Regions from separate parts of the Homo sapiens genome. Here regions 2 and 3 are each reported to be linked to region 1. The links are microRNA targets in miRTarBase. Many come from high-throughput screens and were not tested one by one. Region 1 holds a microRNA gene; each other region holds the end of a gene's coding sequence.
What was found. Region 1 holds the annotated microRNA hsa-miR-3671 (AUCAAAUAAGGACUAGUCUGCA, at 1,846-1,867, shown strand). A microRNA usually pairs through its seed, bases 2 to 8, with sites in the 3' UTR of a target mRNA and lowers its output. Matches are read on the target gene's strand: a 7mer-m8 pairs with bases 2 to 8, a 7mer-A1 pairs with bases 2 to 7 and ends in A, and an 8mer does both.

Region 2: miRTarBase lists FGF19 as a target of hsa-miR-3671. Seed matches in the 3' UTR shown: 7mer-A1 at 1,366-1,372.
Region 3: the mRNA of AKAP10 is a reported target of hsa-miR-3671. Seed matches in the 3' UTR shown: 7mer-m8 at 1,768-1,774.

The regions. Positions count from the first base shown.
Region 1 is chr1:65,056,478-65,059,628 of GRCh38, reverse strand. MIR3671 (microRNA 3671) reads left to right here and starts at 1,787; the gene lies at 1,787-1,874. MIR101-1 (microRNA 101-1) reads left to right here and starts at 1,121; the gene lies at 1,121-1,195. It also overlaps a transcript of JAK1 not described here.
Region 2 is chr11:69,696,821-69,699,820 of GRCh38, reverse strand. It overlaps FGF19 (fibroblast growth factor 19), which reads left to right. Exons shown (of 3, transcript NM_005117.3): 3 at 245-1,583. The coding sequence ends at 559. Among named protein-coding and RNA genes, the nearest start is that of FGF19, 5.7 kb to the left of the region's middle. RefSeq lists a silencer at 246-540.
Region 3 is chr17:19,903,710-19,906,709 of GRCh38, reverse strand. It overlaps AKAP10 (A-kinase anchoring protein 10), which reads left to right. Exons shown (of 15, transcript NM_007202.4): 15 at 478-2,408. The coding sequence ends at 483. Among named protein-coding and RNA genes, the nearest start is that of ULK2, 37 kb to the right of the region's middle.

The DNA of each region.
Region 1 (3,151 bases):
CCTAAAATGACTTCAGAGTACGTCTCAAAGGTACAGATAATTTAAAAGCAAGTGATGTGTATATGTTATTATTACTTTTTAAAAAGGTATTCTGAAGGTTGTCAGTATCACCATAGGTATAGAATTGACATAAACTATAGTGAAAAATATCAATGTTACTAATTTGAGTACATTCTTAGCACTCAGAGCAAGAGGAATGAAAGTCATTTTTGCTAATGTGCATTTTTCTTCTTAATTATAAAGCCCCACTAGCTTCTGCTTCATGATCTCAGTTACTGAGAAAACTAAAACAAAAAGTAAATGTTTTTAGAAATCCTTTTGTTTGTGTAAACTGAATATCCAGTTGATGGAGTTGGACAGCTAGGGTAGGGTAGAGAAAACAAAGCACTGTGTTCACTCATTTGACATGGTTCTGGACATGGGTTCGCCATAACTTAGCAATATATGATCTCTGGCAAATCACCTAAGTTTTTTTTTTTTTTTTCTGCCTATAAAATGGGGTAATAATATCTAATCTATTTCCAGAATCCTTTTTTGATGAATTAATGAATAATTCATTGCCAGCCCCATAGCGTCTTGTGAAAACCAAATGAGAAAACATATAGAGCAGTTTTGAATGTTTGGCAGATATGAAGTATTATTGTCATGTTTGGTTATGAGCACTTTGAAGACAGGAATCATGTCTTAGTTATCTTTATTTCCTGAACATCTAGAAGAGGGCTTTAGAACGTAGTAGTTCCTCGGTATATATATGAAAAATCAATGATTGAGGTCAGGGAGGCACAGTCAGTGAATCCATGCATGGAAGAGATAAGCTGTGAAATATGCTGGAAGCTTACTGCATATTTGATGTATTAGAGTGAAAACCTAATCATGCAGTTGTTCATCCTCATTAATATGGATAAGTCATGTGTTCATCTTTCATTCTAATTTAATTCAACTGGGCCTTTTAATATTTCAGCCTCACCACTTGCTGGGCTCTGATCCTTCTTTTTCTTCTGCCTCCTCACGTCTCCAACCAGAAGGTGATCTTTTAGTCCTTCACTTCATGGGGAGCCTTCAGAGAGAGTAATGCAGCCACCAGAAAGGATGCCGTTGACCGACACAGTGACTGACAGGCTGCCCTGGCTCAGTTATCACAGTGCTGATGCTGTCTATTCTAAAGGTACAGTACTGTGATAACTGAAGGATGGCAGCCATCTTACCTTCCATCAGAGGAGCCTCACCGTACCCAGGAAGAAAGAAGGTGAAAGAGGAATGTGAAACAGGTGGCTGGGACCCAGAAACCCTCTTACCCTGCACCTCTGTCATACTTCTCCCGGGGCATAGGGAGAGTTATTCTGCTTCTCTTTGCCTTGTTTTGTAACATGGGGTAGTTGTTGGTGCAGCCATGTTGTGCTGAGTGAACATATATTAAGATCTTTGGAACCTTTAGGAGACTGAAAATAGGTAAGTATGAATTAGTATTTCTGGAATGGTATTCAGAGAACTTCGTACCATTTTTATAAATGTGAAAGGTAACCTAATTAGAACAGCTTGGCACTTGTCAGTACACTACTAGATTTCAAAATCAGATTCTACTTACAGGGAGAAAAAAAAAGCCCAATATGTTGAACAGTATTGAAATTGTTGCATAAATAAAAGTCCATCATTGTAGACCAGCTTACTGAAGTGAAGAAAGAAAAAAAGTATATCTTTGTCTTGAAGGAGTAGATAGTGACATGTCATGTTTCTTTCAGGATATTTAGGATCTGGCCTAATTCAAAAGAATATTTACTGAATGCCTATGTTATTGCTGCTGCTGTCACATTTACATGAAAATAAAATGTAAATTATTTTATTTCTATCAAATAAGGACTAGTCTGCAGTGATATCTGGCACATATCGATTTCAGGAATACGAAGCTGTAAACACCAAGCCAGCATCACGTGCATGAAAGACTAGGAAATTTTTTTTTTGTTGCCCACACGGGAGTGCAGTGGCATGATCATAGCTTACTTCAACCTTGATCTCCCAGGCTCAAGCAATCCTCCCACCTCAACCTCCCGAGTCTGAGACTACAGGCTCAGGCCACCCACCTGCAAATTTTTAGTAGAGACAGGAGTTCACTATGTTGCCAAGGCTGGTCTTGACCTCCTGAGCTTAATTGATTCTCCCACCTCAGCCTCCCAAAGTGCTGGGATTACAGGCATGAGCCACTATACCCAGCCAGGATTAGGAAATTTAACAGCACACATCTTCAACCTCCATCTTACTCTAGAGAGTACTGCTGGGGGTGAAAGGTGGTTATTGGAGAACCCAGGATTCTGCCAATGCCAATCTCTGCCAATTATCCCTCTTCCCTGTAGACTCCTAAGGACACTGTACACATGTAACAATAGCAAATAAGAAACAAAGTGCATGACTTGATTATGTGTTAGATCTTAGATCACAGTACTGTGCAAGGAAGGCTCAGGTAATTTCATGGAACGTGTTTTAGGCTCAGAGCCTAATCGGGTATATTACCTCATCCTAGGCTCATGTCTGTATCTGGGAGCCTGTGGATGTCTGACTGGTGTAGGAACCCAAAGCAGTGACCCATATGCTTGAGCAAAGAGAACAGAGATGGCTGAGGTTAGGCTGTAATTTGAACCTACCTACCACAGAGAGAAGAGGGGCCAGGGAGAGAAAAACCATTTGTGACTTTTTTTTTTTTTTTTTTTTTTAAAGAAAGAGTCTCAGTCTGCGGTCAGGCTGGAGTGCAGTAGCTCAGTCTTGGTTCACTGCAACCTCTGCCTCCCGGGGTCAAGTGATCCTTATGCCTCAGCCTGCCGAGTAGCTGGGATTACAGGTGTGCACCACCATGCCCATGTAATTTTGTATTTTTGGTAGAGATGGTGTTTCACCATGTTGCCCAAACTGGTTTCAAACTCCTGTCCTCAAGTGATTCTCCTACCCTCAGCCTCCCAAAGTGCTGAGATTACAGGCATTGAGCCACTGCACCCGGCCTCGTGTGACTTTTTAACATACTGTGAACCTTACCTACTATCAGCCCTGCCAACTGCATGTCTTAGATATGGGTCAGGTGTATTATCAGGTCCTCCACTGGGACACAATGGGGAAGAAAGGGAACTGAAAGGGAGTAGGCCTCGTACAGAGAGGTTCTTTCTTA
Region 2 (3,000 bases), not on the chromosome of region 1:
ACCTACTGTGCCTGGCCTTAAAGTACATTATATATTATATATACTTACATATATAAAGGTATATTTTATATATACTTACACGTACAGTGTGTACATCAGGAAGTATGTATAAAACATGCAAGTGATGCTTATGTGGAAGGTCACTGCTGGTGGCCACCAGGGACAGTCTGTAGCACAAACGTCCATGTGGACCCGTGTTCCCTGTCCACTGTGGATTGCTCAGAGCTGCCTGTTTTCTCTGCAGCTTCAGTACTCGGAGGAAGACTGTGCTTTCGAGGAGGAGATCCGCCCAGATGGCTACAATGTGTACCGATCCGAGAAGCACCGCCTCCCGGTCTCCCTGAGCAGTGCCAAACAGCGGCAGCTGTACAAGAACAGAGGCTTTCTTCCACTCTCTCATTTCCTGCCCATGCTGCCCATGGTCCCAGAGGAGCCTGAGGACCTCAGGGGCCACTTGGAATCTGACATGTTCTCTTCGCCCCTGGAGACCGACAGCATGGACCCATTTGGGCTTGTCACCGGACTGGAGGCCGTGAGGAGTCCCAGCTTTGAGAAGTAACTGAGACCATGCCCGGGCCTCTTCACTGCTGCCAGGGGCTGTGGTACCTGCAGCGTGGGGGACGTGCTTCTACAAGAACAGTCCTGAGTCCACGTTCTGTTTAGCTTTAGGAAGAAACATCTAGAAGTTGTACATATTCAGAGTTTTCCATTGGCAGTGCCAGTTTCTAGCCAATAGACTTGTCTGATCATAACATTGTAAGCCTGTAGCTTGCCCAGCTGCTGCCTGGGCCCCCATTCTGCTCCCTCGAGGTTGCTGGACAAGCTGCTGCACTGTCTCAGTTCTGCTTGAATACCTCCATCGATGGGGAACTCACTTCCTTTGGAAAAATTCTTATGTCAAGCTGAAATTCTCTAATTTTTTCTCATCACTTCCCCAGGAGCAGCCAGAAGACAGGCAGTAGTTTTAATTTCAGGAACAGGTGATCCACTCTGTAAAACAGCAGGTAAATTTCACTCAACCCCATGTGGGAATTGATCTATATCTCTACTTCCAGGGACCATTTGCCCTTCCCAAATCCCTCCAGGCCAGAACTGACTGGAGCAGGCATGGCCCACCAGGCTTCAGGAGTAGGGGAAGCCTGGAGCCCCACTCCAGCCCTGGGACAACTTGAGAATTCCCCCTGAGGCCAGTTCTGTCATGGATGCTGTCCTGAGAATAACTTGCTGTCCCGGTGTCACCTGCTTCCATCTCCCAGCCCACCAGCCCTCTGCCCACCTCACATGCCTCCCCATGGATTGGGGCCTCCCAGGCCCCCCACCTTATGTCAACCTGCACTTCTTGTTCAAAAATCAGGAAAAGAAAAGATTTGAAGACCCCAAGTCTTGTCAATAACTTGCTGTGTGGAAGCAGCGGGGGAAGACCTAGAACCCTTTCCCCAGCACTTGGTTTTCCAACATGATATTTATGAGTAATTTATTTTGATATGTACATCTCTTATTTTCTTACATTATTTATGCCCCCAAATTATATTTATGTATGTAAGTGAGGTTTGTTTTGTATATTAAAATGGAGTTTGTTTGTATCAAAAGGTGCATTCTATTATCCGCCTAGAATGTTAGGGAGGGTGGGGAAGGGGCTGGTGGGGGGCAGCACCGTCCACGGGAGGAAACCCTCGGTGTGTCTGCCCTGGACACCAAAAGCTCGGGTGGGAAGTTAGCGGGTTTGGGCCAGCCAGCTCTAGTGGTGGAGGCTGGTTTGGGCCCTGCTGTCCTGCCCTTTCCTCATGCCTAGGGGCTTGGCTTCCTCAGTCCACCTTCTCTCTAGCAGTCTCAGTGGTTAGGGCGGCCTCTCTGCCAGGAGTGTTTTTGGCTGCAGGAAACAAACACCAAGGAACAGCGGCCTAAGTGAGGGCCTCTCGCCCTCAGCACTCTTCCCTGGGGAAAGACGTTCCTGCATTTAACAGTGCCCCCCCCACCCCCCACCATTAGATGCCTGTAGAAACCCTCAAGTTGTGACAACCAAAATACCTCCAGAAGTTGTTGCATGTTCTTAGGAGGCAAGATCACCCTTAACGGAGGACCACTGACCGGAGCAAATAGGATTTCTTTTTGTCCAGCCACAAATCCAGAGGGACCCAGTGACCCAGCGATGCCTGGGCTGTGCCCTGTGTGATTCCCTTGGTGTCCCTGTCCTGCTGGGGCCTCGTCTCGCCAGGGCTGCTGTGGCTTCAGCTGAGCGCCCTGTACTCAGGGAGAGGGAATCATTTCGGGCTGGGCCTCTCTCATCAAGAAAGCCAAAACTTCCTTAGAACCTTTCAGCAAATTCCGGCTACATCCTAAGAACCAGGTTTGCGTCACAGGACCAGGCCAGCCCCAGCTGCACGGCAGGCTGGGAAGGCAAGAATTAGCGGTCAGGGTGACCAGATGTGGGCCACATCCTGAGTGCAAGGAGGAGCAGGTGCAACCGGACACCAACGTGTGCATGAAACATGATTCCAAATGAGCATTTGCCAGGGATTAGGGATGGTGGAGGGAGTCGGGGAGGAGGGTTGGGTCACTCAGGGCAGTAGTTCCCAGGTGCTTACGTTGGCAGCGAGGGGGGTAATGTCGTTGTTCAAGTCTACGAAGGCTATTTCAGGTGAAGCCTCCCTGCTCTCCAGTAAAAGGGACCTCCACTTGTCATTCTCACTGATGACATGCCCAGGACATCTAGAGTTAACCCTTGGGGCGTTCCCTGTCTCCATCTGCCAATCAAGATGCCCCTCTCACTCTTTGGTGTCCTTGTCATGTAACCATGCTGATTAGAGAGCTGACAGGCAGGGCTGGATGATGCTTGTGGACACAGCCTTCTCTACCCGTGGCAGGCGCCAGACAGGAAAGGCACTCTCCTGGAGCCACACAGCCTGGAGGCAGCTCAGGGGCTGTGGGCAGGGCCCTTTGATTGCTGTGTGACCTTGAGTAAGTCACATCACCCCTCTGAGCCTGCATCCTTCTGCGGAC
Region 3 (3,000 bases), not on the chromosome of region 1:
CTGAATTGCTTCATGTGCACATGTCCCATGCCACAATACCGGGGACCTTGTCTTCCGTGATATTTGTCCGCAGTGCTGTGACTACAGGAGGGAGTCAGTGAATGTCTGCATGTGTGTCTTTACCATCCCTCTTGAATATGCTCTAGGGTTAATTCCTAGAAGTAGAATTACTCTATTGAAAATTGGCAATATTTTTCATTCTAATATCTATTGCCAACATGGGAAAGCAAGTCTGGATGCCAGTCCTTGTTATATGCCCCTTGGGTAAGTTACGTAACCTCTTTAAGCTTCTGTTCACTCATATTTTAACAAGGAAAATTACAATATTTTACCTCACAAAATTGTAGTCAGCTTCTGGCTGTCTTAAACTCTGGTATATAGTAAACACTAAGTGTTGGTGTCCATCCTTAATTTGTAATAATAGGTCACTTGTTAGAGAAATGCACCTTACCATTTTCTTTTCTTTTCTTTTTTCAGTTATGACTCAAAACTTGAGATAAAGGAAATCTGCTTGTGAAAAATAAGAGAACTTTTTTCCCTTGGTTGGATTCTTCAACACAGCCAATGAAAACAGCACTATATTTCTGATCTGTCACTGTTGTTTCCAGGAGAGAATGGGAGACAATCCTAGACTTCCACCATAATGCAGTTACCTGTAGGCATAATTGATGCACATGATGTTCACACAGTGAGAGTCTTAAAGATACAAAATGGTATTGTTTACATTACTAGAAAATTATTAGTTTTCCAATGGCAATAACCCATTTATGAGAGTGTTTTAGCCTACTGGAATAGACAGGGACCACATCCTCTGGGAAGCAGATAAGCATAGAACTGATACTTGATGCACACTCGTAGTGGTAACTCATCCCTAATCAGCATTGTAAAGCAGGTGCCAGAGGTGGTTTGCTTTGTCCTTCCAAAGCAGGTGAGTCAGCCCCACCGAGAGCCAGGCAGCTTTGAGTGGCAGCGTGGTGCTAGCAGCTTCAGCGGAACAGGGTGAGAGTTAATTATGCAGTCTTCTTGACAGCGGCATTAATTTGGAAGGAAACTGACAAGTCATGGGTCAAGTTTCAGTGACTTCCTCCTTCCTCTGATGGCAGTATATAGTTTTCACATTTTAATTCCTCCTCCTGAGATGCACTATACTTAAAACCATTCTCTCCCCTGCTAACAGAAGGGTGTGAATCTGGTTTACTTTGAGCATTAGGATTTGCCCCTTTGGAATTCTGCACTCCAGTTACTTAACTTTCCCTTCAGAATACATGTGGAAAGAAAGAAAGAAATAGCGATGACTCCACTTTTGCCCCTGTGGCACCTTGAACAAAGCAGTTCTTCCCAAATTATACTTTTTTTTTTTTTAAATAAGGTGAGCAGGATGACTGGGGAGAGAGAAACATTTGACTTTGACTGCCTCCCCCATTCTTTGCTGTGAGCTGGAAAGTGTGCAGTTGGTCGTCTTTCTTCTCCTTTCTTTAGGATAGTAAGAGACTCACTCACTGCACTTCTGCTCAGTTGGCTTCTGCATCGGGATCACACAGCCATCAGCAGGACTGCCCAGTTGGTGAGCACACTCCATTGACCACGTGGCGCCAGCGCTTCCTCAATGCACATGATTGAGAGGAAAGAAAGTTCTCTTAGATGTTACTGCTTTTGCTCAGACTTTGCAAAAAAAAAAATATATATATATATGTATAAATATATAATTATTAATCACTTTTGTCCTTGAGAAAGTCTTGAATGAACAGAGAATTTATTCCATTGCAATATTTGATTGTATAGAGGCACACTGTTTCATCGACAGAAGAAGCAAAAAGGCTTTGTGTAAGTTTTTGGTACTATGTACCACCTCTGTTATTCTTTTAAAGCTGAAGTATTCATGTACTTAAACCATATTATATTTAATTGTGTTTGATTTTAAAATATATATATATGAATTCTATTTAAAATTGTGTCAACTTTCTGCTTTCAGGGCATTTATGGCTCTTCTGTTGAAATATATTGATCTTTCCAAATATTTTCATTTGCTTTCTAAAAACCCAGAACATGAGCCACTACTGGACTTTGCCTTGTGTTTGAAGTGTATGGCATAAACCCAAGGTTTTTATTAGTCATCTATGCTGTGATTAATTCATTTTGTTCTTTTAACAAAATATTTCCATCCACTTCACATTGCTTCAATCTTTAACAGAAAAGCAATATAAAGGTTATAGAATAAAATGTGGTTTTGGGCAACTCTTGCTGCCTCTGCATGTTTTGGAATAACAATTTCTACAAGACTCTAGGCTGTTTAAACTAGTGCTTTCAGTTAAGATAAATTCTAATCATTTCTTTGTATATACATTTTGTGCTTCTGAGCTAGAGATGCCAAGTAGTTGTAAACTGCTTATAAAGAGAATAGCAGCAAATTTGAGACTCGGCTACTTTTTTCTGCCCCACCTGCTTTGAGACACAGAAGCGGAGTGTGGCCCGAAATTATTAGCCAGATTTAATATTTGATCTAAAGTAGGTCCTTGTACTCATTTTAAAGTTGGAATTTGATTCCTCCAACATTGAGCACCCACCATGTTCCAGGCTCTGTGCATTGTGCCCACAAAATAAGATTCCCTGGTGGAGTTTTTATGGGTTCAAATAATCAGTTGAACACCCTTCATCTTTATCATGTTGTTGACATTGACACAAATTGTTTAAAAAGAAAAGATATTAGAGAGAAAGTGGTACCTTTGTAACTTGATGTGTCTTCATCATTCGGTAAGATTTGATGAAAGTAAAAAGCAAATGTCAGCCAAATCCAGTGAACAGCAATAAAACAGGGAGTAACTTTTTATAACTTTTTCTACTTGGATTTCAACATTCAGTAGAGCTTTTCGAAATGTAAGTAGTTTACAGTACTGGAGGTTTGACTAGTTCAGTAGGAATTTGGAGGGGAAGGTCATTCTGAATTGTAACAAAGTACAAACTTCTTTGCTGTTTTATTTAAGTACTGAGAGCTAAGCACCT